Homo sapiens: one gene and its partners. The protein of the gene in region 4 interacts with the protein of the main gene of each other region in a pairwise test. Each region holds a gene or a part of one and is shown on either strand. Other genes may lie near its edges.

Region 1 (7,932 bases), on a different chromosome or scaffold from region 4:
GAAATTGCAGTCTAACATCATTTTTCAACCACCCTACTTCTCTTATGATGATCTAGAATGTCCTGTTCCCTTACCCCTTCATCTTCTCCTTCATCTTTTATCTTCTAAACTGTCTCTCAAAAAGGTTTACCTTCTCAATAAGCTTTTCCTAGTGTCCTCAGCTAGAAGTCACATTCCTTCTTTGAACTCCAAAACATTTATGTACTTTATTTTTTGCACTGATCCCTGATTGTTTTATCTCCAGACATCTTTCTTCCCTACTAAAGCTTCTTGCTGACTGGTTCTGTCTGTGTATGCCACCACCACTCTCTCAGTAGCGTGGGTGCCTGCTTGCTACATAGTATGTGCTGGGTTTCCGTGTCCTCCTGCCCCTTGCCACTTGCCCCTTCTGATTTCAGGAAAACTGATTTGCATTTTTACAATGCGTAGTGAAATGTATAAAAAATGCTGCTGGTATATTAAACTGGTCTTAAGTCATTTTCTGTAAAATGTCAAATTTCTTACTTTTCTTGCATTTTTTAGGGTCCCAGAAGAAAAATAAGAAATTCTACATTTGGCTTTGACAGGCTTCTCATTTATAACTAATGTTTTTGTGATAAACACAGGGCTCAGAGATGTCAGGCTAGCTTTTCCTTTTGTAATATTTGCTAGATGTGGTATTTATTGGGAGACTATTCTCCATGGGTCTCTCACATGTTATGCATGTCTTGGCAAGCAGAGATACAGACTGACTGCTTTTTTTCCTGGACTATCATTTTCAAGGATGTTTATATAACGAGCAGCCTTGCAAGACAGAGATAGTATTTCTCTTCAGAGCAAAGAGCAGGTTTGCTTATGGTCCAGTATAAAAAGTGTCTCCTTCCAGAGCATGTTTACATAGAGTTTATAGTAAGTAAGGATAATGCCACCCTCCAGTGCAAAGAATGGGCATGCTTATGCCCATTATAAAATATTTGAGTTCCTTTTAAGCTCAGGCTCTCTTTCCTGTAACACAACCCATTGCATGTGTAATTGTTACCTGGCCCTTCTATCGCACCCCATGGAAATTGGGGCATGGGGAACTGGCTTAAATACTGACACTGGCTACTGCTATTTCCTTGAGTAGTGAAGTTCTTTGTCTCTGACCTGGGGTCTTGTGTCTTCTGCCAGTATCCATGAAACTGGCAGAATAACTTGTTAGCTTACAAGTAGGGTAAAATCTCAGACCCTTCACAGTTCTTAGTAATAATGTTAAAGCTGCTGTTTTCATACCTGCAAAATCAGCCCTTCTGTAAGTAACTCCTGTTAAGTTTGGATGAGATTAGAATTTAGGTGCCTTATGACTATATACTTTATTTTTCCCCCTATTCTTTTTCATGAAAATAAATTACTCGAGTTAAAGGACTGTCATTCTGAGATTGTCCTTCTGTGAAATAATGATATTAGTGTTGTTCTCTTTCTCTCTTTTCCCCAAATAAAAGCACTGCTGTTTTATGAGGATGAGCTACACTGACAAGCATGTTGATTTGTTTACTTAAAGCTGAAGTTTGGAGTACATATTGTCTTAAAATGAGAAATGGGGTATTTGGGAGGACATTTTTTTAAAATTCGGGTATAACATGACTTTTTAATGATAAATTAGATAAATAATAAAACATGTTGGATAATGATAATGCTAAGGGAAAAGAAAATGAAAGAGGATACGATTGTTTGGGTGGACAAGACAGTTGAAATTTTAGATAATGTTGGCTACAGAAGGCCTTACTGGTGGCTTCTGAGTAAAGAACTGAAGTAAGTTTGGAGATGAGCCATGTGATTTTCTGGAGGGAAGGCATCTGGGTAGAGGGCACAGCAGTGCAAAGGCTCTGCAGCAGAGTGTGCCTGATGGGAGACATTGAGGAGGCCGGTTTGTGATGCTTTGAAAACAGATAATGAGAGGGTTGGAGTATTAACCTTTGTCTTAGCTGTGTTTCTATACTTTACCCCAGAGCATTTGCTTTTATGTTTATATATTAATCACCTTTCCATTTGAGAAATGAGATTCCTTTCTTTAAAAACATTTTGAAAACTACAGAACTAGATAACTTGTCTTCCAAACTATTCTTAGTTCTCATTGACAGTCTCTGTAGGTGCTTATTTTTCAACAGTCAATTTAAGTCCCAGTCTCACATTGGTGTGTTTTTTAATTCAGCAGGTATTCGAGAGCTATATTCAACCCTACTTTATGTGGTTTATTTTTAAGCCCCCACATGATTATATTCCTTGCTTCTGTTGAAGAGAAGAGGCTGAGACAGCTTGGAACAGTTGGAGAATAATATAAGATAACATTCTACCTAAAACCTTTCTAGCCAAGGTTGCTTCTTACCCTTTGTTACCAAATATAAAAGCTAGTTTTCAACTCTTGTTGGCCTCTTAATATTAGGACCATACATTTCCTTGAAACACCATCCTGTCACTCTGGTTGCACCATTTCTCTTTCTCAAGGATTCCTCATTCCTTGAGTTTATGCCTTAACTGCTTCTTCTCACTCTCCTTAATCTCTTCGGATGCTTCTATCTACTATATGGCTTCAGTTACCACCTATAGGTTGTTGATTCTCATATCTAAATTTGTAGTCTAAACCCCTCTCTTGAGCTGAATTGTTAGCATTTGTAATTAGTTGGCTTTTTACATATTCATTTTTATATTTAAAGCAATTTGATATCTTTTACCTAAAAAAAAAAAAAAAGCTAGTTCTTCCTCTCTTTACTTTGGTATAATAGTATTCTTGTCCAGTTGATTAAGTTATAATCTTTATGTTCGTGACCATTAGTCAAAAGCTATCAGGTACGCACCTGTAGTAAACAAAGTTAGGTTTATTGATGCTTTCTGCAGCAAGGGAAGCCACATACCATGGGGAAACCATGAAATGTCGGTAAGATGATGTTGGACAGACTTAGAGAATGTGGGCTTTTGTTGGGTAATTTTGGGGAGGATTCAGGGAAGTGATGAAGGTTTCCTTTGGATTGGATGCTGTGAAGAAGTGGGGATAATTCTATGATTGGGTATCTTCATAAATCTTATCTAGGAGGTGACAAGAACAGAGTGACGCTAAAACTAAATGGTAAAGAAGCAGCAGTCACTTGTGCAAGATGGGATTTTTTGTGGTTTGCATGGAGTCCTTGCTTTTGTCTGTTCTCAGACGCAATTCCACAGTGGCTTGGGTTTGCCTCACTTCCATCATAGTCTGATGTTAGTGATCTGTGAGATCTTGTTTGACAGAAAAATGCCACAGTCTAGCTGTGAGTGCTGAGCCACCTCCTAGCTGTGAAGGGCTGCATTTCTCTCTCTTTCTCACTTATTTGGGATAGATGTAGATTAGGTGGCATTTAGACAATAAGAAGATGTATTTTAGGGTATTTGAACAAATAATTTACATGCTATTGGCTATGTGTGAGGGGCAGTAAAGAAAATTATTATACTGGTAATGTATCAGTAGGATCTAGTGTTATGTTGAAGTAGAGATCACTTGGTTGTTTGTTCTTTATGTATCAATCATACATGGGGCCTTTTATAGCTAAATGTTTGAGTACTTAACTATTTGCCAGACACTAAGTACTTACATGTTCCCTTTTAATCTTTCAAGTAAGTTGAGTCAGAAAGGAAGGATGCATATTCCTGTCTTTGGGAATAAGAACCAAACTGGAAATCCAGGTGTGGCTAGTGGTGTAGACTGTTAAGTAATGTTTAAGAGTGTGAGTTTTAGCATAATAGATTGAATTGATTAGATACAAATGGTTAATAAATTTTAAAAAATAGCCTGTGACAATGTTCAGGATGACTAGAAACTCTTGGTTTTAGGTATTTATTTGGCTTTCCCCATAACGTAGGCCCAAATGTGTAATGTGAAAACAAAAAAGACTAAAGCTGCCAGGAAAGGGTACAAGTTGTGGTGGTAAGCTGTAAAGAATTTGGCTTTAAGTTAAAATAAATACATATTAGAAATATTGTGATTAAAAACTATGCTGAAGTTAGGGATGAAATTACTTTGAATACATCAAAAATGATAGATGGATAGATATGTGATGAATAGCAAAATGCTAATTGTAGAATCTAAATGGTGGTCACATGGCTGTTCACTGTGAAATTCTTTCAACCTTTGTGTATATTTGAAAGTTTTAATAATAAGATATTGGGGGAGGGTGGAGGTATAAACTATCTGCTAAAGTCTTCTCTCTGACCTGAGATACTTGTTTTCTCTGTAGGAACTTTCCGCTGTACTTTTTGCCATACAGAGGTAGAAGAGGATGAATCAGCAATGCCCAAAAAAGATGCACGCACACTTTTGGCAAGGTTTAATGAACAAATTGAGCCCATTTATGCATTGCTTCGGGAGACAGAGGATGTGAACTTGGCCTATGAAATACTTGAGCCAGAACCCACAGAAATCCCAGCCCTGAAACAGAGGTGAGTGTAGGCCCTGTGCTCTTACTAAGAACACATTTCAACCTGTTCTTGTTTTAACTACCTGTACCTTGGAGAACAAGAGTGGGTAATTTACTAGGAGACTCAAGACTGTAATGTTACGTAGGTTCTCAGTTGTGCCACATTTGTCTGATTAACGTGTGCCTGTGATGAAATTCGTTTGTTCTAAATGCAGAACACTGTGGACTTCAGGCAAAAATCTTTAAATATTTAGGTTTGACTTCAAGTACTCATTCTGCTTGGGACTGCAGCAACTCAGCCAATTGTTAGCTAATCCTAAATTAGTTGTGCCGCTTGGGGATATTTGAATTTTCCTAGCCAGCTTCTGAAGGCTGAAGGCCTTTAAGGAATTCAGCATTTTCTTTTTTGTTTTTGAAGCATTTTAATCACCTTTATTTCTTAGTTGTAATTGCAACTTCCTTGAAAGTAAAGTATAGCTGGTGTTACCTATGGGTTAATACTCCTAACAGTGGCTCCCTATTTTTATCAGTGTTCCCTAATGTTTGAATTTCAGAGGTAACCTTAGTTTTGCCATGCCAGAAAAGGTGGTTTATATTCTTTCTTGAAAAGCATAAATGAAAATTGGGGTCAGGGAGTGCTCTCCTACTCTACCCTTTTTTTTCTCTCCCTCTTCCCAGCATCAAGTAAGGGATATCTTTATTTAACCTTCACTTCACCCACTCCCTTCCAAAGAGCTCAACAATCAGGCTGTATTTGTATAGTTTTTAGGAGCATTCTTAGTATTTTATTTCCTGTGGTACTGATGTTACAGAATAGCCAGTCCTGAGTAAATTGGGCTCCTTTTAGATGGTTCAAAGCAATCCAATTCTACAGAAAATTTTGTATCTGTAAGAGTTATGAATTTTCTAATCCAGTACCGTGTGTCAGTTAGGATGCCTTTGCCTGTGATAACAGAATATCCAGCTCTAGTTGGAATTAGAATCCAGTCTAGCAGTAGATTGAACAATAAGAAAATTTGTCTTGCATGACTAGAAGTCTTGAAGTAGTACAGTTCAAAACTGGTTAATTTCACAGCTCAATTATATCTTCAGGGATCTAGATTTGTTCCATCTTTATACTCTGCTGAACTCAGCCTGTTGATTATCCTCTTGGGACCATGAGGGGAGCTAGTCTAATATGGCCATGTATTTCTAGGTATCACGTGCAGATGACAATGTCCAAATGCAGAAAAAGGGACCGTCCCTTCCTTGTGTCCTATTTTAAAACTGAAGAAAGGTTTCCCAGAGGGCTCCCTAGGATACTCTATTTATCCCCTGATGTCTCACTGGCTGCAATTGTTTTATATGCATATTTCTAAACCAGCAGCTGGCAAAGGAAATGAGATCACATGACTGGTACTTAGACTAGTTAAGGTTTACCTTCTAGGACTGGGGAAGGTCCCAGAGTTCTTTGGAGCAAATTGCCATTGGTATTTTAATAAAACCAATAAGCAAAGAAAGAAAGGAGCCACAGTTGATAGGAAACTAATAACATCTGTATCACAGATAGCCTTAACTTTTGGTACTGGTTATTTATTTCTTTTTGTGTAAGAAAAGGAATTCCTCTTTTGAAAAAGGAATTTTTCTTTTTGTATCTTTTTCAGTCCTTTTAAGTTATATTGTAGCTCTAACATACAAGCTTATGAGGGAAATTGATTTTACAAAAATACAAAATTTTCTAAGCTTATGGATTATTTCATGTTGAAGTATGCGTCAGTGTAGTATCTGATTGCTTCCTACACAATATACTATCTGAATTATTCTGATGTTTCCTCTCCTACCTGTAGTTATTTGTCCTGTTTATCAAGATGCTTCCCCACTACAATAGCATTCAGTCACCACCACCACTGGCTTCCTGTCTCTAATGTTCTCCACCTACCACAATCCAGCTCCCCTTCCAGGATCTTTATTTCCATATCCCCCACTCACTGCAGGCCTTGGATGAGTCTTAGTGGTACAGTGACACCAGAGGCCCAACAGCAGCTCTCTGTATCAAGTCATCTTCTTCTTATCAGGAATGATGGTGACTCCAGGGATGAAGAAGAACCAGGAAATAGAGGAAATAAACTGATCAGGAAAAAAGGATACCCAAAAATCTGGTCATTAAGAAAAAAGGGAGGAAATGGAGGCAGACAAGAAAGACAGAATGGGGTTCCTAGAGCTGCCAGCCAGACCAAAGTAAAATCATTTCCACGTGGTCAGGAAAAAAACCATTAGGTTAGAAGATGTTACCCAGGTTATAATGTCCCCACCAAAGCATTTGACAAATTCCACTGCTTGGATATAACATCCTGGAGGTGGTATTGATTTGGCCTTTCTGTACTATAGGAGTATGAAGTTTTGAAATGGCCCATCCTGCCCCAAGGATGTAATAGTCCATCCTGCCTCAGTACAAGAGAAGAGGCATCAATAGAATGGTATGGGAACTCAGAGATGATAGCTTTTCTTTTTTTAAATAAGTGGCAATATTATTAGTTTGATTACTGATCTGTAATCAGTTAAATTCTAGCTTGTCCCTAGATCAGAAACTAGGGGCTACCTCTGCAGAACTGTCAGTAGGCCTAACCCAAGAATTGATGGACAATTCTATCCTTTCAGCAAGTCAACCTATTGATGAGATATAAAAATCTTCCTATCTTTCTAGAGTGGAATTCCTTGCTAGTAACCTTCCCTTTTTCATCATCTCTTAACACTTACCTTAAAGATTTTTAAAAATTTAGTTTTGAAATAATATTCCCCTCTCATCTCTGAGTAAGAGTTGTATCTTTTAAAAGTTCTAAAATTTATTAAATAATATAAAAAGATTCAAACATGAATTGTCATTTTTGTCATCTTCAATTAAAATTGTTCCAAATTTTAAAATTTGTTTGACTTATGGTCAAATGTCTGCTGCCTCAAACTAGAATAAAACCCATCTTGAATTTCTATGACAGAATACTAAAAACAAAAGACTTTTTAAAAGTACTCTTGTGTTAACATTTATTTTAATTCTGTTCTTTTCTCTCTAGCTTTCTTGTTTTTCTCAAAGTACTCCTCATACCTTCATAAGACAGTCTTTGTAGTCAATGCTAAAGATAGAGAATAGAGAAAAACTCTGTGTTCAGGATTATATATAAAGAGAAGCAGTAACCTCAGAGTGAGTGAGTCATTTAAGTCTGAATCAAGGAAAGATAAGGATGTGGTTGGCCAGATCAGAGAAATATGCCTATTCTGTCTCTCCCAGGTGGGTTTAGCTAACTCAGGGAGAAACATTTTGGGGTGGCAGATATATAGAGCAGGCTCAGCACATCAAGATGGGGATGTTGGCTGAGGATAGAAGAGGCATTGAAAGGAGTCAGAGAGACAAATGGGTGTGAGAGGAGAGGCCAGAATGTAGAATAAGCACAGAAACATAAAAAACCAGATCAGACCAAGAGAAAAGAGAAAGTAAAGTGAATGCTGAAGAAGAGAAAAGTTCGAAAAGCCAACCTATACAAAGTAAGCAGCATCA
Region 2 (5,740 bases), on a different chromosome or scaffold from region 4:
TGGAGCTCAACGGCGAGGACGAGCTGGTGTTCACGGTGGTGGAGGAGCTGTCCCTGGGGGCGCTTGCCGGAGCTGGGCGGCCCACCAGCCTGGCTAGCTTCGACAGTGACTGCTCCCTGCGGGCCCTGGCCTCGGGGTCCCGGCCAGTCAGCATCATCAGCAGCATCAATGATGAGTTTGACGCCTACACCTCTCAGGCCCCTGAGGGGGGGCCCCTGGAGGGGGCAGCCTGGGCCGGCAGCAGTCACGGCTCCTCCATCAGCTCCTGGCTCAGCGAGGTCAGCGTCTGCACTGCCGACAGCCGTGACCCCACGCCGCAGCCCCGCTTCAGCCCCGACTCGCTGGCAGGGCTTGACCCTGGGGGCCCCCCTGCCCTGGATGGTTCCCTGGGGGATGGAAGCTCTGGGTTCCTGGGGCCAGACAGACCTGACAGTCCTGGGCCAACCTGGGGTCCGTGCCCTGGGGAAGTGGCTGCAGTGGCCCCATCCCGACCCGGCAGGGAGCCCCAGGCCGGGCCCTCGCGGTGGGCATCCGCAGCCCAGACCATCCACTCCAGCCTCCCCCGGAAACCGAGGACTGCCTCTGCCACCACCCGTGTGGGCTGTGCTCGCCTGGGCCAGAGCCCACCTGGCCGTGGAGGCCTGTTTGAGGACCCATGGCTGCTCCGGGTAGGGGAGTGTGATACCCAGGCAGCTTCTGCTGGCAGGGCCCCCAGCCCCACACTTGGCTCCCCCCGGCTGCCTGAGGCCCAGGTGATGCTAGCCTGTGCCCAGAGAGTGGTGGACGGGTGTGAGGTGGCAGCCAGGGCGGCCCGCAGGCCAGAGGCTGTGGCTCGGATCCCACCGCTGCGGAGGGGTGCCACCACGCTGGGTGTGACAACGCCAGCTGTGTCCTGGGGAGATGCTCCCACGGAGGTGGTGGCCTGCTCGGGGAGCCTGAAGGCCTCCCCCACCAGCAAGAAGGGTCTGGCTCCCAAGGCGGGCTTCCTCCCGAGGCCCAGTGGGGCGGCCCCCCCGGCCCCACCCACGCGGAAGTCCAGCCTGGAGCAGAGGAGCAGCCCGGCCTCGGCCCCTCCGCATGCTGTGAACCCGGCGCGGGTCGGGGCTGCTGCTGTCCTTCGAGGGGAGGAGGAGCCCAGACCCAGCAGCCGGGCTGACCACTCTGTCCCCAGGGCCACGTCCAGCCTGAAGGCCCGGGCCAGCAAGGTAGAAGCAGCACACCGTCTTGCCGGACACGCGTCTCTGGAGCGGTACGAAGGCCTGGCGCACAGCAGCAGCAAGGGCCGGGAAGCCCCTGGGCGGCCTCCCCGGGCTGTACCCAAGCTGGGTGTGCCACCCTCCAGCCCCACACACGGTCCAGCTCCCGCCTGTAGGAGCGGCGCAGCCAAGGCTGTGGGGGCCCCCAAGCCCCCTGTTGGTGGAGGCAAGGGCCGTGGCCTAGTGGCTGGTGGGTCGCGGGCTCTGGGGCCTTCGGTGAAGCTGTCTACGGCCTCTGTGACGGGCAGGAGCCCTGGCGGCCCTGTGGCCGGTCCCAGAGCAGCCCCACGGGCCGGGCCCAGTGTCGGGGCGAAGGCTGGCCGGGGTACCGTCATGGGCACAAAGCAGGCGCTCCGGGCTGCTCACAGCCGCGTCCATGAGCTGTCAGCCAGTGGAGCCCCGGGCCGAGGTGGCTCCTCGTGGGGCTCGGCGGACTCAGACAGCGGCCATGACAGCGGCGTGAACGTGGGGGAGGAGCGGCCACCCACGGGCCCGGCCCTGCCCTCCCCCTACAGCAAGGTGACCGCCCCACGGCGGCCCCAGCGCTACAGCAGCGGCCATGGCAGCGACAACAGCAGCGTGCTGAGTGGAGAGCTGCCGCCCGCCATGGGCCGCACCGCCCTTTTCCACCACAGCGGTGGCAGCAGTGGCTATGAGAGCCTGCGGCGCGACAGCGAGGCCACCGGCAGCGCCTCCTCCGCCCCTGACTCCATGAGCGAGAGTGGGGCTGCCTCCCCAGGCGCCCGCACCCGCAGCCTCAAGTCCCCCAAGAAGAGGGCCACAGGTGGGTGCAGAGGTGCACAGCCCTCTACAGTTTACGGGCTTTCTGTGTGTAGATGTGCACAGCCCTCTACAGTTTACAGGGCCAGGAGATGCTGGACAGATGGGCACAGCCTTCAAGGTCCCAGACCCACACAGCCGTGGACGGTTTACAGACTCGCCTGGGGCTTTTTGTGTGTGGAGGTGCACGGCCCTCTGCAGTTTATAAACCCCCTGTACTTGCCCTTCTCTGGCCCCACCCTGCCCTGGGGGGCTGATCCTGGTCTGTGTCTGGGTGAGCACAAGGGCAGCCCTGCACAGGTCGCCAGGCTGGGGCACTGGACTCGGGTTTGGGTCCCGGGCCTCGTGCCTCCCTGGCGAGTGTCGAGCTGCCTGGAAGGCCCCCGCCAGGGCTGCCCCAAGGGACAGAACTGCTCAGGTCATGGCAGGGAAAGTGGGAGGCCCTGGTGGTGGTGGGGGCGCCCTTGAGAGCTGTGGGCCTGGCTTGGGGTCGGCTTCCTCCCTGCCCTGGGCAGAGCGCCAGCCTGAGGATTCCTGGACTGGATCCCGAAGGCCTCCCTGTCAGGACTCGGGCCGGCTCCGCAGCGTCCCCGCAGGGGCTGTGCTTGGGCTGGGCCCCGCCTCTGTTCACCCTGTGCCCGGCTCTCCGTTCCAGGTCTGCAGCGGCGGCGCCTGATTCCCGCCCCACTGCCCGACACCACTGCCCTGGGCCGTAAGCCCAGCCTCCCCGGGCAGTGGGTGGACCTGCCCCCGCCCCTGGCTGGCTCCCTGAAGGAGCCGTTCGAGATCAAGGTGTACGAGATCGATGACGTGGAGCGCCTTCAGCGGCCCCGCCCCACCCCGAGGGAGGCCCCCACCCAGGTAGGGCCTTTGGTGGGCTGGGGTCTATGACCCCTGGTGGGGAGCCTGCCGCGGATGGCAGAGTGAGCCATTTGATGGGCTCGCCAGGCCTCTGGGGGTGTGGCTGGGCAGCCCCTGACCTCACTTTCTGTCCACGTTCCTCCCAGGACGCAAAGGTAGGAGCGGCCCTGCCCAGCCCAAGCCTGTTGCAGCTCCGACACTCCCCTTGGGCAGTGGGTGGGTGGCTGGGGGGTCCTGAGGCCACTGCTGCTGTCCGCTGGAATTCTCCCCTGTCGTGGGGAGGGTGGTCCTAGAGCCGAGCCAGGACCCAGACGGGCATGGGTGGGCTGCCCCAGGTCCGCCCCCTGCCCGCCCTTGGAGCCCCACTGTGTGCCTGCCAAGGCCTGGCAGGTGAAGGGAGGCGGGGGCCACATCAGGGCTGCTTGGGGGTCTCTGGGGAGAGGGTCCCATGCCTGAGCCCCCGCCCGCCCTGCCTCCCAGGGTCTGGCGTGCGTCAGTACAAGGCTGCGGCTGGCGGAGCGCAGGCAGCAGCGGCTGCGGGAGGTGCAGGCCAAGCACAAGCACCTGTGTGAGGAGCTGGCCGAGACCCAGGGCCGGCTGATGCTGGAGCCTGGCCGCTGGCTGGAGCAGTGTGAGTCCCGCCCGCCCACGGACCCAGCCCGGCCCACCGTGTGCCCTGACAGCTGCCCTCCCCTCCCAGAGCCCTGTTGCTCTCCTGTACCTCGTGGTGGGAAGGCTGGAAGGCAGGGTCGGCCGGGCCAAGATGCCTTTCCTGGGGCCTCTGGGGGGCCAGGTGGCTGCCCCCAGCCTCGGGCCTGACGCAGGTGCCCCTCCCCTCTCCTCCCCTCCCCAGTTGAGGTGGACCCGGAGCTGGAGCCCGAGTCGGCCGAGTACCTGGCGGCCCTGGAGCGAGCCACGGCGGCCCTGGAGCAGTGCGTGAACCTGTGCAAGGCGCACGTCATGATGGTCACCTGCTTCGACATCAGCGTTGCAGCCAGTGCTGCCATCCCGGGGCCGCAGGAGGTGGACGTCTGAGGCTGGGCGCCGGACAAGAGGAGGGGGCGTGCAGCGGGCTGGAGGACGGGACGTGGGACGGAGCGAGGATGTGGTGGGGGCTGCGGGGGGAGGATGCGGAGGGGTTTCTGTGCAGGACGGGAGTCTCAGAGAGGAGACGGAGTGTGGGGGAGGGAGGGCCGGCCACGCGGTGGACAGAGCGAGGGTGCCAGGGTGACCAGAAGACCGTCACCACCCGACAGCAACGCAAGTGCCTTTGACCTTGATTTGGACTTTTCTCCCTTTTGCATTTGGTGCTACAGACTTGAGACACCAGCAGAAGTTGTGTTCAGCCCGGCCCCGCTGCGCCTGTCCGGGCCGGGGCTGGCGCCGGTTGTGTTTGTGTCCACCTTGCCTTCTTTGCAGCCAAGCAGTTTTTGTGGAGTGGAGTGGGACTTACCTGCACGCCCCAGGGGTCTTTCAGGATTCAGGATGACTTTTCTTTTACAATGGTTTCCTCTCGGCAGAGCCCGGGTTGTGGGGGATCTGTGTGGGGTTCTCAACGCAGATCCATCCTGGGGTCTCCCGGGCAGGGATGGCTGACCTCGAGTCCCCTCCCTTCCCGAGAACCCGCTCTGTCCCGAGGGCAGCTAACAAGGGCTGAGCCCCAGGTACAGGTTGCCTCTTCCACGGCAGGAATTTTTACCAAAACCACAAGCAAAAAACAAAACAGACCACCACGACCAACAACAAAGATGGGGGGTAGGGTTTTGTAAAGGTTCTGTTAGGTTCATATTTTTATATCATTTTGCCCATAAATGCGGAATTTGCCGTGGGAATTTGAAGACAAATGATCTATGTTTTTATGGTTTTCTAGGGAAGGTGTTCTGGGGGCCGGGCTCTCTCCAGCTGTGGGAGGCCTGCTCCCTCTGGGGGGCACCCTGGGCAGGGTGGGGGGGCCTTGGGAGGCGCTTCTTGCCAAATGCAGACGAGGGGTGAGCCTGCCAGCGTTTGCGACGTCCCCGCACGACAGGCTCATACTTTCTGAGGATCGTGCATAGCATAGGACGTCTGAACCTTTGTACAAATGTGTAGATGACATCTTGCTACAGCTTTTATTTGTGAATTAAAGATGCATCGATGGTTCCCACGGCTGCCGAGTTCACTGGGCGTCGGCAGACTCCTCACGCCCTGGTGTGCCGCCCTCTGAGGGTCCCTGGGGTGACGGGCAGTAAGCGTGGGAAGGACACATCCACGGGGACCCAGGGCTTCGGGTGCTGTGCCAGGGCCTGCCTTGCAGCCCCTGTGGGGCCCACGGTGCCATGAGGGCCCTTCAGAGAAGGTGGAACACGACAGAGCTGGGATTCAAGCCCACGCTTCCTTTCTGATCTGCTTTCTTGTTGACTCTGCTGAGATCTTAGGGTCCCGAGGCTGGGGCAGGGAGCCAGGCTTGGGGGCTGGGCTGGCGGGAAACAGCCCTGTGTAAGCGGCCCCTGGCTCCCTTGTCTCTGGGTTATGCTGTGTGGGGAAGTCGAGGCAGGAGTGATGGCAGCATTTCCCTCCCAGAGTCTTCTTGCCATCCTCTGCCCTCTGCCTACCTTTGCTCATGGGCTCAGGACCCCCGAACCACAAGAGCCCCCTCCCGGGGCAGCCTGGATGGAGGCTCTTCCCTGGAGGACTCAGGCCTGGGTCTGTCTTGACCCCAGTTTGCTGGGCTTTCCCGTGGTCAGAGGCCCCAGACCCTTTGGGGGATCCCCAGCCCTTTGACTGCTGTGAGCTCATGGCCTCACCTGACCTGTACATGTGCCCTCTGGGGCCACCTTAGCTGTTGCTCTGGTTGCCTCCTGGCC
Region 3 (8,838 bases), on a different chromosome or scaffold from region 4:
GTCATTAGGACTCACACTTCGTTTTCTTCTCTCTCAGATCTGCCGTCTCCATGTTAGTTCCATTTTTAGGCATATTCTCCAATGGGGGCAAGATTGTTGCCAGCAGCTTACATTTGATTTTCTCAGCAATCCACATAGATTCATTTTTCCCAACATTAACCCAAAACTCCCAGAACTGACTTTTATTGGCTCTACTTGAGTCATTTGCTTATCAATGAATCCATCACAGAGACTAGGATTCTCTGATTGGTCAAGCCTGGGTCACATATTCACCCCTGGAGTTGGGGGAATTCAGTTCCACTGGAATCATACAGACTAAATATGGTGGAAAGATGCTTCTCCAAGTAACATCAATGTGCTGATCTCAAAAAGGTATAATGGACGCTGAGTAAGCTCTGTGTGTGAGTGTGTGTGTGTGTGTGTGCATGAGAGAGGTGTGAGACATCTAATCACTTGTTGCATTAGACATCCTTTGAAATGTTTCCTCTTCTCTGTTTTGATGAAGTATAGGCACTATCTCATTGTAGCTTCCTATCTAATTTCCTTGCCTGTAGTCATTCTCTCCTCAAATATATTCTAGGCATTGCCAACACAAGTCTTCCTAAAGCATTGTTTTGATCATTTTACTCTCCAGCTCAAAAATCTTTCAGAAACCTTCTTCTATCAAATTCTATATTCTTCAGCCTGGCATTTATGATCTTTCCACAATCTGGCTCCTGCATATCTTTCCAGGCTTATCTATCCACCTGCACTTGTTCCATGAGCCAACTAAGCTGCATTGCTTACCATCTCTGAACACACTGCATGTTTTCCTAACACCGCCTTTGTTCTATTTGTATGTTCTACCCCATCACCATTTCTCTCATCCTAAGTCTCATGCCAGGTGATGAAGTAGAGACTGCTAGTTCTCTTTAATATACGTTCTCCCCTTCTTCATTAGTGTTAGAACCACTGATTTTTAGCTGGGCACATGGCTACCCAATAGAGACTACACTTGACCAAGGGAGCATAGTGTAGTGATGTATACAACTTCTGTAAGTGGCTTAGAATAGACACGTGTGTTCCTTTCTGCCCCTACCTCCTTTATGCTTGCTGGAAAAAGGATATAAGGAACTTGAACAGCCATGATGGATCATAAGGTAGAAGCTGCATTTCAGGATGGTAAAGCCACATGATGGAAGGAGCCCATGGATCTGCTGATTAGAGAGTCACCTACACTGATGTGAGAGTAATACATTTTATTTTCTTTAAGCTACTGTTACTTTGAGCTTTTTAACTGCTACAGAAATCAATCCCTGTATGAAAATATATAGTTTAGGATAATTTTCTGGTGGCAGTAATAGGAATCATTCAAAGCTATGTAAAGCAAAAAAGGGAGAATTATTTTAAGGACAGAAGGATTTCTCACAGAACCTATGGGAAGGGATGAAGGAAGCCTCAGTAATAGAGCGATAGCTGGAATTAAAAAGTAAGGGGAGGCCAGGAAGCCCTCTCACTGTGTCTCATCTCTCCTTCTCTTCCTTCTTACTGAAAATTATTTACACAGTTGTCACAGAGAAGCTACAAATAAATATTTGTTTGATGGATGGCAATTTGTGTGTGTGATAAACTGGATCTAAAGTCAATTCTCAAAACGTTTTGTTATATATATGTAGCTTGTTAAAGTGATTCTTTTGAAGGGGGGAATCATACTTTTTAGAGTCTAAGCTCTCTCTTAAACCCTTTCTCTCAGCTTTCCAATTTTTCCCAGTCACTTATTCCAACATCAGAAAGGGGGCCTGAAATACAGGATTGTCCATAATTAATATCATGACAGACACTTTTGAGATTGCTCTGCTTTTTTACAGGAGTTGCAAAAGTCAGTTTTTATGAGAACACAAGCACTGGCACTCACTGACTATTTTGGCAGACAAGGAAATGATAGATTAATTACTTTTGGTACATTTTTCCCATAACTGTCTTTTTTTTCCATTTCATTTTTGCATTGTTACTATTTACCAGTCTGAGTTCTCACTTACACCTAGTTTTTGCCCTTCAGGGTTTCTTATATTCTTGCCAACTCTTTGATATGCTTGATAAGATGTTTTATATATATTTATATATATTGCTTTGGGTTTGAGAATCAGCCAGAGCCTCTAGTCTGCCATACTACTGGACACAAAAGTTCAATATGTTTTCACTTCATTCGTTTATAAGATATTAACCTGCATTCCAAACACCAGGGCCCTAACTCTGGTGGCCTAAGCTCCCCATCCACAAAAATGAAGAATAACTACCTTTCCACCTGCATCAAATTGTTTTTTGTACAAGACTCATGTAATCATTAACATGAAGTCAGTTTGCAACTGGAAAATACCATGAAAATACATTTTCTTAACTCTGAAAACAAAACAGAGGCAAACAAGTAATAAAAGTTATAACTAAGGGTAACAACCTTAGAATGGTTTGTTCAATTTACAATGTCTATATATTTGCACTCATCTGCTTTTTTTCTGGCCCAAGGTATAAATGAGAAAGTCTTAAGATAAAAAAAAAGCAATATTATTTTATACGTTATATTTGACACTAATTGTATAATTTACATTTTTAAAAAATAAAGAGAAAAAAATAAAGAGAAAAAGGCAACCTTGAGCACACTATAAAATCTTTCACTCTTTTTTTTTTTTTTTTGAGATGGAGTCTCACTCTTGTCACCCAGGCTGGAGTGCAATGGCGCGATCGGCTCACTGCAACCTCTGCCTCCCGAGTTCAAGTGATTCAAGGTTCAAGTGATTCTCCTGCCTCAGCCTCCCGAGTAGCTGGGATTACAGGTGCCAGCCACCATGCCCGACTAATTTTTTATGTTTTTGGTAGAAATGGGGTTTCACCATGTTGGCCAGACTAGTCTTGAACTCCTGACCTCAGGTGATCTGCCCACCTCAGCCTCCCAAAGTGCTGTGATTACAGGTGTGAGCCACCGCGTGCGGCCTTTTGTTTTGTTCTTTTGAGACAGGGTGTCACTCTGTCGCCCAGGCTGGAGTGCAGTGGCGTGATTTCGGCTCACTGCAGCCTCCGCCTCCCGGGTTCAAGTGATTCTCCCACCTCAGCCTTCCAAGTAGCTGGGACTACAGGTGTGTGCCACCATGCACAGCTGATTTTTTTTTTTTTTTTTGGTAGAGATGGGGATTCACCACGTTGGCCAGGCTGGTCTCGAACTCCTTACCTCAAGGATCTGCCCACCTTGGCTTCCCAAAGTGCTGGGATTACAGGCATGAGCCACCGTGCCCATCCAAATCTTTCACATTTTTAAATTTTGTGAAATAGCTGTCCTTTTTATATATGGGTAAGCTATCAAACTTAAGATGCTCACAGCCCTTTACATACTTTGTAGGCTGAGATTCTGAGTGTCTAATATTCTGTAATGTATCTTGGTCTCTGTGCTGCAAGAACACTGAAGTATTATTATAGGTAACAATCTATATCACTCTTCTCAAACAGCGCTAACAGGTTAAGTATTCAAGAGGAACATCTTTCAGTATATTTCAAAAAGCCTCATGGATGGTAGGTGATTTGTAAATGGACCAACGCAGGACTCAGGCATATATGGTTACTGCTTACTATTTCCTATAGATCATGATGTCTTAGGTCTTATGTAGAATATATCATAGGACTTGTCCTCTAAACATTCACATACCAAGACTGCACTCTGCATGCATGCCATTCACTCATTCTGCATTTACTGAGTCAGTCCTACTGCATGTCAGACCTTGTGCCTGTTCTCAAGAAGCTCGCAGTCCAGGAAAATGGAGAAATACAGATACAATTATAACTCTATGTGATAAGTGTTACAAAGAGATACGGTGTTATGGAAGCCCTGGTAGGGGCACTTAGCCCATACTGGAGTGGCTGGGATAGGGCTGAGTGGCCAACAATAGGGAAGGGTTCACAGTGGAATTGATGTCTAGGCTAAATAATGAATAACAAATAATTAGCAAGGCAAGGAAAAGGTAGGAGATCAAGACATAAAAATAAACAGCATATGGAAATACAGGGTTGTATGTGAGTACGGCAAGACTGGGGAGCCTAAGTGGTTTGCTGTATATTTAATTTATTCATTTCACGTAGCTACTATTGACATACTTGTCTCCCTATATATGTTTGAGTCCGTGGATGGTGGGGACTTTGTAATGGTTTCTCTGTCCCTATGTCTAACAGGAGGCACACAGATGGAGTGCAATAAAATGTCTGATGAATAAATGACCAGCTATGAGGTGTAAGGGAGAATAGGAATCCATTAATGAGAAAGGTCATTTCTAGTGGCAATGAATATCAGATAAGATAGATTTAAGAATTATTTAGAAATTAGGATGAATAAGACTTGGTGATATATTGGCGATGGGGTATAAAATAAGAAACACTGGCTTTCTAGGTTTCTGGATTACAGATGCATGATAATAGTTATAATGGTATAATAACAATAGCTAATATTTATTAGGCACTCTGTGTCATGAAGTACGCAAAGTGTTTACATGAATTAAGCCATTTAAACTCTTAATGACTCAGTGAGGCAGGTTCTGTATACTCATTCACTGATGAGAAAATTGGGGCTAGAGAGATTCATTTGCCTAAGGTCACTCAGCTAGCAGGTGGCAGGCTCAAGCCCAGTAATTCTGACTCCAACAACCATACATATAGTCTACTTTTCTTTACTGCCTCTAATAGATGAGATTAATACCCAGAATGATGGTCCTATTCAATAAGTGTATCACACAAATGCACGTTTCTCTTTTGCTAAACATAGAGACACATACTATGACTACCTCTATTATTATTATTTTTTTTTGATTTTTGGGATCTTGGCTCTTTCTGTATTTTTCCTACCTGGAAGACCTAAAGTGGGGTAGAAGTTTGATAAAACAGTTGGCACAAAAGATGAGAGAAGACAGGTACAGACATGACATTCTCGAACGCTCTGGCAGTTGCTGGAATGATGGGATCTGGGTTCTACAGGATTCCTCCCCTCCCATCTCCCGCCACACACACACACGTCGTAAGGTGTATATGGCCGCGGAGTCTCAGGTTGGTTCTAGGAGTCCTCAACCCACGGCAAAGGTGCCTCTTCTCCCTCCTGGAGAGCCCAACATGCTTGAAGTTAACCTGAGGCCGCCTCTCGGGCCCGGCGAAACAGAGCGCGGGCCCGACGAAACAGAGCGCGGGCCCGACGAAACAGAGCGCAGCTCCGGCTCGCGCTGGTTCCCAGGGAAACCGCCCGCGGAGGAACCTCGGGCCAGGGCCGTGACACCTGCGACGAGCCCCGCCTGGCGCCAGGGGGCGCGGAAGCGCGTCCGCCCCCAGGCCCCATGCCGGGCTCGCCCCGCCCCTGCCGGCCACACCCCCCTACCCCGCCCTCCCTCCGTGAGGACCGGCCGCTCCCGGCTCCCGGCCCCCGGCCCCGCTTCCGGCGCAGGCGCAGTCCCGCGTTCCCTCGGCGGCTGCCGGCGTAGTGAGCCCGCCGCCGTGGAGTGTAGCGGAAAGGGCTCGCCGTCCTCCTCCGTTTCTCGCTGCTTCGGGACGCGCTCTCTGCGGCTCTGTGAGCGCCCCTGAGCGCCGGCAGCGGCCGCGGTGGGTTCTTCAGGTGAGTGCGGCCGCGGGAGGGAGAGGCCCGGAGCGTAGAGCACCGCCCCCCTCGGCGCCCGCGCGCCCGCCTCTGGCGAGTCGGCCAGGAGGGGCGGCCGCGGCAGGTGCAGGTGCTGGCGCCGTGCAGGGCGCGGCACGCGGGGGTTCGGGGGGATGCCCAGGCCCGGTGAGCTCGCTCTCCGCCTGGGCACTTGGGCTCCGGGCCCTTGGGGGCGGCGTGTGGGGGGGACTTTGGCGACCCGGGTCAGCCGGCCGCCCCCTGGGCTGCTGGTGGGCGTCGGGCGGCGGCTCCTCCCCCGGGCACGGGCGCGTTACACATTAACTGCGCGGTCCCGCGCGCCCGGGGCAGGGAGCCCGAGTCCAGCGGGTTACCTGGCGGCGGGCGGGCGCGGCCGGGAGCGGAGGGCCGCGGTCGCGAAGAGGATGAAGAGAGAGTTCCCGAACAAGTCGGAAGCAGCTCACAACACCGGACGCCGCGCGGCAGGGCTGTGGACCTGGGGTGGTTTCGTGTCCCAGTCTTAGGAAACTACGCGCGAGGCACCGTGCTGAGGCGTAGAGGTCACCCTCGGGAGGTTTCGGTGAAACCTGGTGGGAAATTCCGGGCAGGCGCCCGGAGTCGCGCCCAAGTAGGCAGCTCCGTGCCGCCAGACTTGTGTTCGGGGGAGTTGAGACGAACTGCACGGGTGGGATTGCATGGCTCTGCCCTCCCAGCGTTGACAACTCGCCCCGACCGCCCAGGAAGCGCGAGCTTACTGGCTCCAGAAGTGATGATGCTGGGTGGAAGTCGCAGCATGTGAAGAGTTGCCGGTTGTTATGGGATTAAAAAAGATGAAAGGGTAAGGTCTTGAAAGACACGAGCGCTGAGTTAGTTAGTACTGATTACTGAGAGGCAATTTAGTTTCATGGAAATGTTGCCTGTTCGGAGGCTACCTGTTATACACTCTCCTGTTTCACCCCAACTCCTTCCGTTCAGTGTCGGGTTAAAAGCCTTGTAATCTCTTGCAGTGGAATGATTGCATAATTGGAGGAGGGGCCCATAAGAGGATTACAACAAAACTGTTCCATTGTAAATCAGTTGAAAGACCCAGTTCTTGTTCATTATCCTTTTTCTCATTTTGTTGTTCATGAAGGTTTTTTTTTCTTCCAGTGCTGAATGACAAATCAAGGAGAAAAGAGGCAGAATAGGGTTGTAGACCAATCGTAGTAAATATTTGATACTGTTAAATATTTCACCAGTTTTATGGGGCCTTGTTCTGTTATCATTTGTTATTTATTTACTAGTACTGTGCATTTTGATAGGACTTTTCATGTTTGGACAGACAGTGTATTCCAGATGCGGCTTATGTGATCTAATCCTAAAGCCCTTGTGGAATTTATAGAAATAAACAGTTATACAATTAAGTAGTCCATTTTTTAACTATTAAATGAAAAGCCATTGCATTTTTTTCCATTACAGTAATGTTACATATTAATGTATACCTTTGTGAACCAAAGTGTTTGATACAACTCTTCCTTCTGTGTTTGGTAAACAACTCATCTGTGGTACTGAATACTTGTAATCTTTCACCAGGATGGCCATTTAATGTTTAGCTGCTTTGTGGGATTTCTGAATAGATCCTATTGTACTTTTTGAATTAGTGCAGTTATCCATATGTTTCCTTTAATATTCTTTACCTTTGATTTTGTCTAAACTCTCATCCTCCCCCAACACACACATCCTCTACAAATAATTTTTAAAATGGAAAGGTTCTTAGAAATGTTTCACCCCCTCATTTTTTAAATATGGCACGAAAAAATACTTTGTAGATTACAGTAGTTTTATATGCATTATAGTAGTTACTATACTTTTTTCCTCCTCAACAGGAGTCAGTGAACAAATTAGTGAGCTGGCTGAATGAAAAATTATTTAATGTTCAGCTCCATCACTTACTGTGCATAAAACCTTGAGTAAAACATTTAACCTGTTTGAGCTTATTTTCTCCATTTGTCAGTGGAAATACTATTAGGTTGAAATTGCTAATATTCTGCTGTTTTTTATGTTTCAACCTAATATGAACTTCATAATGGTAAGATGAGGATTTAATAACATACTCCATTAGAGATGTGGGGAAGGGGAGAAGGAACCAGTGTGAGCTTGATTGTGTGCAAGGCACTGTGTGTGCTTGTTTTCGATACCTTGACTCCTCAGTCCTCTGGACATTCCCGGGATATAGGTGGTTTATCAAATTTTACAAGTCAGGAAATGGAGGCTTAGAAAGTTGCGATAATTTGTCTATGGTTACTTAGTTGTAGGTGGTCGTACAGCTGGCCAGTGACAGAGCCGGTATTAAAAACTGTATCCGACTGCCCAAAATGGAACGTAGTGCTTTTGTTTCTTACATTCCTGGTCTGCACCTTCTATTAAAGAGCTTTGTAACTATAAGGAGGCACACAGATGACAAGTGTTACCATTTGTATTTCTGGTTTAAAAATATCCAAGTTTTCTGAAGACGGTGATACCAGCATTGCTACTACAGTTACTTTTAAGTCTAGTGCTTATCAAGCGAAGTCCTGGTGTAAGCTTTATACTCATTTACTCTCAGAGTGAGCGAGGAGATAATACTTTATCCCTATTTTGTAGTTGAGAAAATTGAGACCCTGAGACCTTATGTAGTTTGCTCAACGTCACATAGTTAATTAAGTGACAGGTCTAGATTAGATGTCAGACAGTTTGTCTTCCATGTCTGTGCTCTTAACCACTACACTCTGTCATTTCTTCATGTATAAGTGGTAATGCTAAAGAATTGTTTGCTCATAATCACTACATTATCACTTCTTTATGTGTAGCTTATAATGCTGAAGAACTTTGTAATTTAGCTTTTATGAGATACGTAATGTTAATGTAATATGTAATTCTCATTGTGTCACCAGAGATTTTTTTAAATCAAATACTCATTGAGCATCTACTCTGCAAGTCACAGTAGGGGTTAAAGGAAACTGTTCTTAAGGAATATGGAAGGTAGGGCCTTATAATCATTCCCATATCTTTTATAAGTTCTTCAAAATGTAGAACGCACTTTACATATTTTAATGAATGTCAACTAAGACAAAGTGCTAGGATAGTTGAGTAGTGGAGAGGAAGGACAGATGGATAGTGGGTAGAGATATTTGTGCATTGAGGTAATGAGGGAAAGCTTTGAAGATATTCCAAGGGAGTACGCTTTTTCACACTAAACTTTTTTC
Region 4 (7,932 bases):
GCCACTGGGGGCAAGTCTTGGGGACACGACTTTCCATCTCTAAGCCTCAGTTTCCCCATCTGTAGAATGGGCATAATACTGGCACCTGTGCCTCAGAATTGGAAGTGCTGAGTGAGGCGGTGTTTTGTCCTCATTATTAGAATATGATTAGTTGGTATTGCTGGCCGCATGGTGGCCTCCAAAAAGACATATCCATGTCCTAACCCCTAGGACCTGTGAATGTAACCATGTGGGGGAAAAGAGTCTTTGTAGATGTGACTAAGTCAAGGATCTCCGGACGAGATCCGTAAGACTTTCCAGGTGGACCCCAAATCCAATGACATGTGTTCTTATAACACACAGAAAGCAGAAGGTCTCACCACCATGGGGACAGGGAATGGAGTGAGGCAGCCACCAGCTGAGGAACACCGGGAGCCACACAAGCTGGGAGGTAAGGAAGGGTTCTACCCTAGAGCCTTTGGAAGGAGCCAACACCTTGATTTTGGGCTTCTGGCTCCAGAACTGCGAGAAGACAGGTTTCTGTTGTCGGAAGCCACCCAGTTTGTGGTACTTGCTAAGGCAGCCTCAGGAAATGAACACAGGTGGGCTCTTGTCAGAGCTCCTGAACCTCTCTGAGCTCCCTAGCCCAGCCCTCACACCCCCGTCCCACCCCGGGTCACTCTGGCTGGCCCCGACACGTGAATCTTTTCCACATTCTGTCTGGATGCTCCCTTGGGGCTGGGCCTAGCCCCTGCTTCAGGCTCCCAGACAGGTGAGTCCAGCCCAGGCTACATAGTCATGCAGCCACAATCCAAAGGAGTCCGTTCCTCTGATGGGAAGATTTTCAGCAGTGGAGTCAGTCTGACTCAGCCAGTGTGTACGGAGCCCTCCCATGGACAGGCAAGGTCAGGAGAGGGCCCAAGACAAAGGCAAACTGGCTGCAGCCTCTGCCCTTGTTTGCATTCAACCTGGGAGGGAAGACACAGGCTCCGTTCTCACTACTGTGGGACCAAGTGCCCAGGGTCATGGAAGTGCAAGTCAAGGGCCTCCGGCTTCAGGGAGGGAGGATTCCCATCAAAATCATAAAAGCTACTGATTCCTCCCCTGTGCAAGGTGCCTTACCTGTATTATCTGATTGAGCCCCCACAACCACTCTGTGAAATAGATTGTTACCTGCATTTTATAGAGGAGGAGACTGAGACTTCAGCACTGAAGTTCATGGGCAAGTTTACCCAGGGTGTAAATCAGAGTGCTGAAATTTGAACCCGGTTTCCAAATCCAAGACGGTCCAAGTTCAAAGATGGTGTGTTATCTACTGAAACAAAGTGCCTCATCCCTGGCTCCCTTGGGAGATCTGGGAGGGCTGCTTGGAGTAGGTATACTGTGGGATCTGGGCCTTGAAGGAAGGGTGGGCTACTGATAGGCAGATGATAGAAAGCCATTGTGGAGGGAGGAGAAAGGGTGAACCAAGGACAGAGGGGAGTGCAAACGTGGTCTGTGCTGGGGCAGGAGTGGGCAGATGAGGAGTCAGTGAGGCTGTCAGTGTGGTTGGAATGTCAGGCTCTGGGATAGTGGGCGATGTGGAGCTAGGATCAGGAAGTTTTTGGAAGAGAAGATGTGCTATTTGAAACGTTACCAGTTACACCACTGGGAGTGTTTCATCTAAGGACACAGGCAGCCCATACTGGGTTTTGTACCTTCCCCTGGGCACCGGGAGGAAACAGTGGGCACAGGCAGGGAGTGGGGAGACTAGACCCGGGAGGCAGCTCAGCCATGGGGGGCAGGGAGGAGGTGGAGTTGGGGTGGCACCCAGGGAAGAGGGTGGCAGACTCTGTTCAAGGGCTGCTTCAGAGGAAGAATGCATAGGCCATAAGGAAGGATGGGACTTGGGGCCCAGGGGTAAGAGGAGTGGCTGGGACCAAGCCCATGCCTGGCAGTTGATGGGCTGGTAAATGGAGCTCAGGGAGAGAAGGCACTGGCACGAACTGGCCGCACCTCCTGTGTGCTGTGCCTGGGTCAGGAGGCATGGGGTTCCTCTCGGAATAAGAAGTTGCATGGGGGCAGAAGATAGTCTGCAGGCTGGGGAGGCAGCACCTGCCACCTGCAGGCCCCCCTCCTGTCCCAGCAGGGTCTGGAGTGTTCTACCTCCTCATGCTGTCCACCGTGAGCCGCTCATCCTGGGAACTCTGCCATGAGAAGTAGCCCGTGAGGAATTTCCAGGCTTCAGTCCTCACGAAGGGGTGCAGACCCTGGGGTGGGGGTGGGAGGTGGAGGTCATGGGCTCTATCGATGCCTACCAAAAGGGCTTCATCCAACGCCACACCTGCCCCCTGCCCATCCATGCTCCCAGTTCCAGGGCAAGGCCAAGGGTAGCTTGGGGACCCACCCTTTCCAGGATGTTAACACAAATGAAGTCCCGTGATTTGGCCAAGTGGCCACTCTCATCAAAGAAGCTGTCCCATTCTGTCTTGTCAATGGGTGGTTTTCTCTTCACCTGGCAAAAGCAGCAACCAGTTCTGCCTTATGTTAGAAGGCTTCGGCTTTTAAGTGTGATTTTAAATAATATGTTCTGGACTTTGCAATATGTATCAAAGCGCACAGCCTGACTTACTTCGGAAATCTATCTTGAGGACATTACTGAAAATATATAGAAAAAATCCTGTATGCACAATAATTTTCATGCACATTACTCACCAACATGAAAAATGCAAGCACTCTAAATGTTCTGCAATAAGGGGGTAGTTAAGTAAACTGTGGTTTATGTGCTTAATGGAATATTTTGAGGCATATAAGTGTTGTTTACAAGGAATGAATAATAATCAGAAAAAATACAAATGTTAACAGAAAAAAGCAGAATACAGAATTGTATATCTAGCATTTTCTCTATGTACTATATAGTACAACTATGGCCCTCATAGTAATACCTATGTATTGTGTCCGTTATATATTATAATAATACCCCACATAAACTCTAATATATAATGCATTGACTACTATAAAGTTGTTAGAAAAAGACTGAGAAAATACAAAAAAGTTCCTCTCCCCCACTAAAAACAGCAGTGATTATCTCTGAGTGATAGGAAATAAGTACTTTTTATCCTTTTTCTTGTATTTTTTATTTTTCGAGACGGAGTCTCACTCTGTCGCCAGGCTGGAGTGCAGTGGTGGATCTCGGCTCACTGCAACCTCTGCCTCCCAGGTTCAAGCGATTCTCCTGCTTCAGCTTCCTGAGTAGCTGGGACTATAGGCACGCGCCACCACACCCAACTAATTTTTGTATTTTTAGTAGAGAGGGGGTTTCACCATGTCGGCCAGGATGGTCTTGATCTCTTGGCCTCAGGTGATCCACCTGCCTCAGCCTCCCAAAGTGCTGGGACTACAGGCGTTAGTCACCGCACCTGGCCTTTCTTGTATTTTTAAAATTTTCTATAATAATGTACACTGCTTTGATCACAGGAAAATATAAAATAAGCATTAATTAGACACAGTTATGAGCTCCACTTTACCTTTCCTGGAAATGTAGAATGGTTCATTATGAGAGATAGTCTCTGCTTTTGATAAGGGTGTGTGTGTGTGTGTGTGTGTGTGGTATATATCTGTGTGCTATGTGTATGTGAACATGTGTGTGTGTATGTGTTGGAGAGAGGTGAGTGCACTGCATGCAAAGTAATTCAAAATGCTTATAAAATAATAACTAGGGTCAGGTGCAGTGGCTCATGCTTGTAATCCCAGCACTTTGGGAGGCCAAGGCAGGTGGATCACTTGAGGTCAGTTCGAGACCAGCCTGGGGCAACATGGTGAAACCCTGTCTCTACTAAAAATACAAAAATTAGCTAGGCATGGTGGCGCATGCCGGTAATCCCAGCTACTCTGGAGGCTGAGGCAGGAGAACTACGTGAACCCGGTAGGCAGAGGTTGCAGTCAGCCGAGATCTCACCACTGCACTCCAGCCTGGGCAACAGAGCACATAATAATAATAATATCTCTAACAACAACAACAACAACAACAACAACAACAGGAGTGAGGGTTCCTGTTGGAATAAGAGAAGATTCCTTTCTTCCTGGGATACTCTCTTCTGCTGGAGAGAAGAATATCTTGAAATGCCACATTGCAGACATAAAGATGTGCTGATGGACAGAGCTGAGTAGACATGTAAATATACACACTCCCAACTTCCCATTAGTATACATCTGAATATGTGACTCAAAATTAAATTGGCGTACAAATCACTTAAGGATCTTCTGCAGGTGCAGAGTTGATTCAGAGGGTTTGGGGTGGGGCCCAAGATGATGCATTTCTAACAAGCTCCTGAGTAACAGGTGATGCTGCTAGTCCACAAACCACATGAGTAGTAAAGTATTAGAAGGCAAAACAGGCCAGGCATGGTGGCTCACGCCTGTAATCCCAGCACTTTGGAAGGCCCAAGCTGGCAGATCACTTGAGGTCAGGAGTTCGAGACCAGCCTGGCCAACATGATAAAACCCCATATCTACTAAAAAAAAACAAAAAACAAAAATTAGCTGGGTGTGGTGGCGGGGTGCCTGTAATCCCAGCTACTCAGGAGGCTGAAGCAGAAGAATCGCTTGAACCTGGGAGGCGGAGATTGCAGTGAGCCAAGATCATGGCACTGCACTCCAGCCTGGGTGACAGAGCAAGGCTCCTTCTCAAATAAATAGATAAATAAATAAATGAAGGCAAAGCAGCATTGTTAACTAAAAATAAGAGCCTACAGGCTCCAAATTGGGATAATTTCTACTAACTGTATATTTGATGGAAATGGATTGAGAAACACATTTTTAATAACTCATGTATGCCCTGTCATCTGAACCAAAATAGGACACATGGGCCAAGAAGTTACAAATCTCGGTGTGGGCCTAACCCTGGGAAGCAGGGTCTGCCCTGATGTGTTCCCCACCTGCATAGACACTGCCACTCATCAGAGCAAGCTTTCTGCCCCTCTGATTGTCATCATGTTCTCCCAACCTACACTCATTCAGAAACTGCAACACTCAGCATGCAATGTGGCAGGAAGCAGAAGGGAACAGGCAAAGCTGGGCTGTGTCCCGGGATCCTTAACTATAAAAGGAAATGCTTTAACTTTAGAAATGCATTTCCATAAGGATTTTAGTCAATTTGTCCATTTCTATAATAAAGGCAGCTGTGATTTTGGTGGAGACTGTATTGAATCTGTAAGCCAGTTTGGGAGAATTGATGACATTATTGAGTCCTCTGACCTGTGAACACAATATATTTCTCTGTTTATGTAGGTCTTTTAAAATTTCTCTCAGCAGTGTCTTGTAGTTTTCAGTGTCTAGGTCATTCATATATTTTGTCAAGTTTATCCATAAGTATTTCATATTTCAGATGCTACTGTAAAAAGTATCATTTTAAAATTTAAATTTCTAATAGAAATACAATGTACTTCTATATATCAATCTTGTATTCCTGCAACCTAGTAAAACTCACTTAGTAGTCGTAGTGGCTTTCTTGTGGATTCCATGGGATTTTTGACATAGACCAGGGGTCAGCAAATTATGATCCATGGATCAAATGTGGCCTCCAATCTGTTTTTCTAAATAAAGTTTTATTAGGATACAGCCACACCCACTCATTTTTGTCTGTGGCTGTTTTCATGCTATGATGGCAGAGTTGAGTAGTTGCAACAGAGACTGCGTGGACATAAAGCCAAAAATTCTATTGTGACCTTTGCAGAAAAAATTTGCCAACTCTGACATAGATGAGCATGTTCATCTGTGAGTAAAGGCAGTTTAACTTCTTCCTTTCAAGTATGAATACCTTTTATTTATTTTTTCTTGTTTTACTGCACTGGCTAGAACTCAAGTGCAATGTTGAATAAACGTGGTGAGAGAAGACATTCTTGCTTTGTTCCTCATCTTAGAGGAGCAGCATTCAGGCTTTCACAGTTCAGTATGATGTGAACTCTAGGCTTTCTACAGATGCCTTTTATCAGGTTGAAGACAGTCCCTTCCAGTTCTAGCATGCTGAGAGTTTTTAATTAGGAATGGATGTTGGATTTTGTCAAATAATGTTCTGCATCTGTTGAAATGGTCATATGGTTTTCTTTTTTTGAGTTTGTTAGTATGGTAAATTATATTGAGTACTTTTGAATGGTAAGTAAGCCTCACATTCCTGGGATAAGCCCCACTTGGTGATGATATACTATGCTTTTTATACATTGTTGTATTCTATTTGCTAAAATTTTATTTAGAATTTTTGCATCCATGTTCACAAGAATCATTTGCCTGTGAGTTTCTTTTCTTGTAAGATCTCTAATTTTGGTATCAGGGTAATGTTGGCCTCATAAAATGAGTAGGGATTTCTTTTTTTTTTTTTTTTTTTTTTTTTTTTTTTTTTTTAGTTTTCTGGAAGTGTTTGTATAGAATTGGTATTATTTCTTTTTAAAATATTTGGTAGAACCAGTGAAGCCATCTGGGCTAAAGTTTTCTTTGTGGGAAAGTTTTTAATTGCAGATTCTATTTCTTTATTAGATATTAGGATGGAGTCAAAAGAAATTGCTTTATTTTTTACTTTAAAAATTAGGAATTTATAGGAACAGGACATCTTCCAACTCACTTTAAAAAATAAAAGCAAGCAATATAGGAAACAACAAGGAATTAATAAAAGTATAAAGCATAAAAATGATAGAAACCCAAAGCAATTAATTATGAAAATAAATGCATTTCATTCTCTTATTAGCTGTAAACATTAAAAAGCAATTGATGATGTGCCAGACACTGTTCTAAGCACTTTACATATATCAACCCATTTAATCTTCGCAAATATCTATGAAGTGGTAAAGTTCTTGTACTGTTTTACAGATCAGGGAACTGAGACCACAGGAGGGTTAATTAGCATATCTGAGATTAGATACAGAAAGTATCAGAGCTGGAGTTTGAACCCTAAGCTGTTTGATGCAACAGTCAGAGGCTTAACCCTAATGCCATGCTGGGGGTGGGAGGGGCAGTGGGAAGGAATTAAAAGGCAAGGATTTTCCACTCAAATAAAAAATATGTATCTTACACAAGCTGTGAACAAAAGAAATACCTTAAAATCAAATGCCCTACAATGATTAAAAAATAAATGACGAACAAAGATACGAAAAAAAGTCAAACACAATGGAGAGGTAATATTGAAATTAAAGTAATATGCACCGCACACCGTAACAAAAGATACAGCATCAACGCAATAAGGCAGAAATAATTAGAAACATCACAAGAAGACATCTGTTGAGTATTCAGAGAATTTGCATTTCTAAACCTCTACCTGTAACAATTGGCCATCTGCCTACTTTGCCGTGGTTGAATTTGTTTATAAAAAGTCACTGCTTCGGCCGGGCGCGGTGGCTCACGCCTGTAATCCCAGCACTTTGGGAGGCCGAGGCGGGTGGATCACGAGGTCAAGAGATCGAGACCATCCTGACCAACATGGTGAAACCCCTTCTCTACTAAAAAAAATACAAAAAAAAAAAAACAAAAATTACCCGGGTGTTGTAGTGGGCACCTGTGGTCCCAGCTACTTGGGAGGCTGAGGCAGGAGAATGACGTGAACCCAGGAGGCGGAGCTTGCAGTGAGCTGAGATCGCACCACTGCACTCCAGCCTGGGTGACAGAGCAAGACTCCGTCTCAAAAAAAAAAAAAAAAAAAAAAAAAAAAAAAAAAAAAAAAAAAAAACCCACAAAAAAAGTCACTGATTCTTCCTTCTAGGAAACTCCATTTCTCTACACCCACCAGTTCCCTGTATCTCTCCAAACTTCAGCAAACTATAGGCCACCCACAAGACTATCTCAGACACTTGCTAGCAAGCCAAGGACCAGAACAAGAAGGCTGTTGACCCGCAGAAGGCAAAGGGGGAAATGTCACTTAGAAGCCCTCTCTCTACATGCACACCACCTACCTGCCTATGCTAGAAATCAGAGAATGTGTATCTGGGC

The links.
Region 1: the proteins of TBC1D21 (region 4) and GTF2E1 interact in binary tests that used the Homo sapiens proteins (3 or more experiments, as listed by UniProt).
Region 2: the proteins of TBC1D21 (region 4) and KIF26A interact in binary tests that used the Homo sapiens proteins (3 or more experiments, as listed by UniProt).
Region 3: the proteins of TBC1D21 (region 4) and RAB3IP interact in binary tests that used the Homo sapiens proteins (3 or more experiments, as listed by UniProt).

What each region holds. Positions count from the first base shown.
Region 1 is NC_000003.12:120,766,505-120,774,436, forward strand, and holds part of GTF2E1 (general transcription factor IIE subunit 1), read left to right. Parts: intron 1-4,223; coding exon 4,224-4,425; intron 4,426-7,932.
Region 2 is NC_000014.9:104,175,859-104,181,598, forward strand, and holds the end of KIF26A (kinesin-like protein KIF26A), read left to right. Parts: coding exon 1-2,040; intron 2,041-2,691; coding exon 2,692-2,897; intron 2,898-3,377; coding exon 3,378-3,528; intron 3,529-3,750; coding exon 3,751-3,932; 3' UTR 3,933-5,036; downstream 5,037-5,740.
Region 3 is NC_000012.12:69,733,418-69,742,255, forward strand, and holds the start of RAB3IP (rab-3A-interacting protein isoform alpha 1), read left to right. Parts: upstream 1-5,442; 5' UTR 5,443-5,614; intron 5,615-5,963; exon of another isoform or gene 5,964-6,429; coding exon of another isoform or gene 6,430-6,452; intron 6,453-8,838. UniProt on the Homo sapiens protein: Guanine nucleotide exchange factor (GEF) which may activate RAB8A and RAB8B. Promotes the exchange of GDP to GTP, converting inactive GDP-bound Rab proteins into their active GTP-bound form.
Region 4 is NC_000015.10:73,875,940-73,883,871, reverse strand, and holds part of TBC1D21 (TBC1 domain family member 21), read right to left. Parts: intron 2,474-7,932; coding exon 2,366-2,473; intron 2,229-2,365; coding exon 2,125-2,228; intron 1-2,124. UniProt on the Homo sapiens protein: Acts as a GTPase-activating protein for Rab family protein(s). Essential for the establishment of male fertility, and is required for both the production of normal sperm number and sperm function.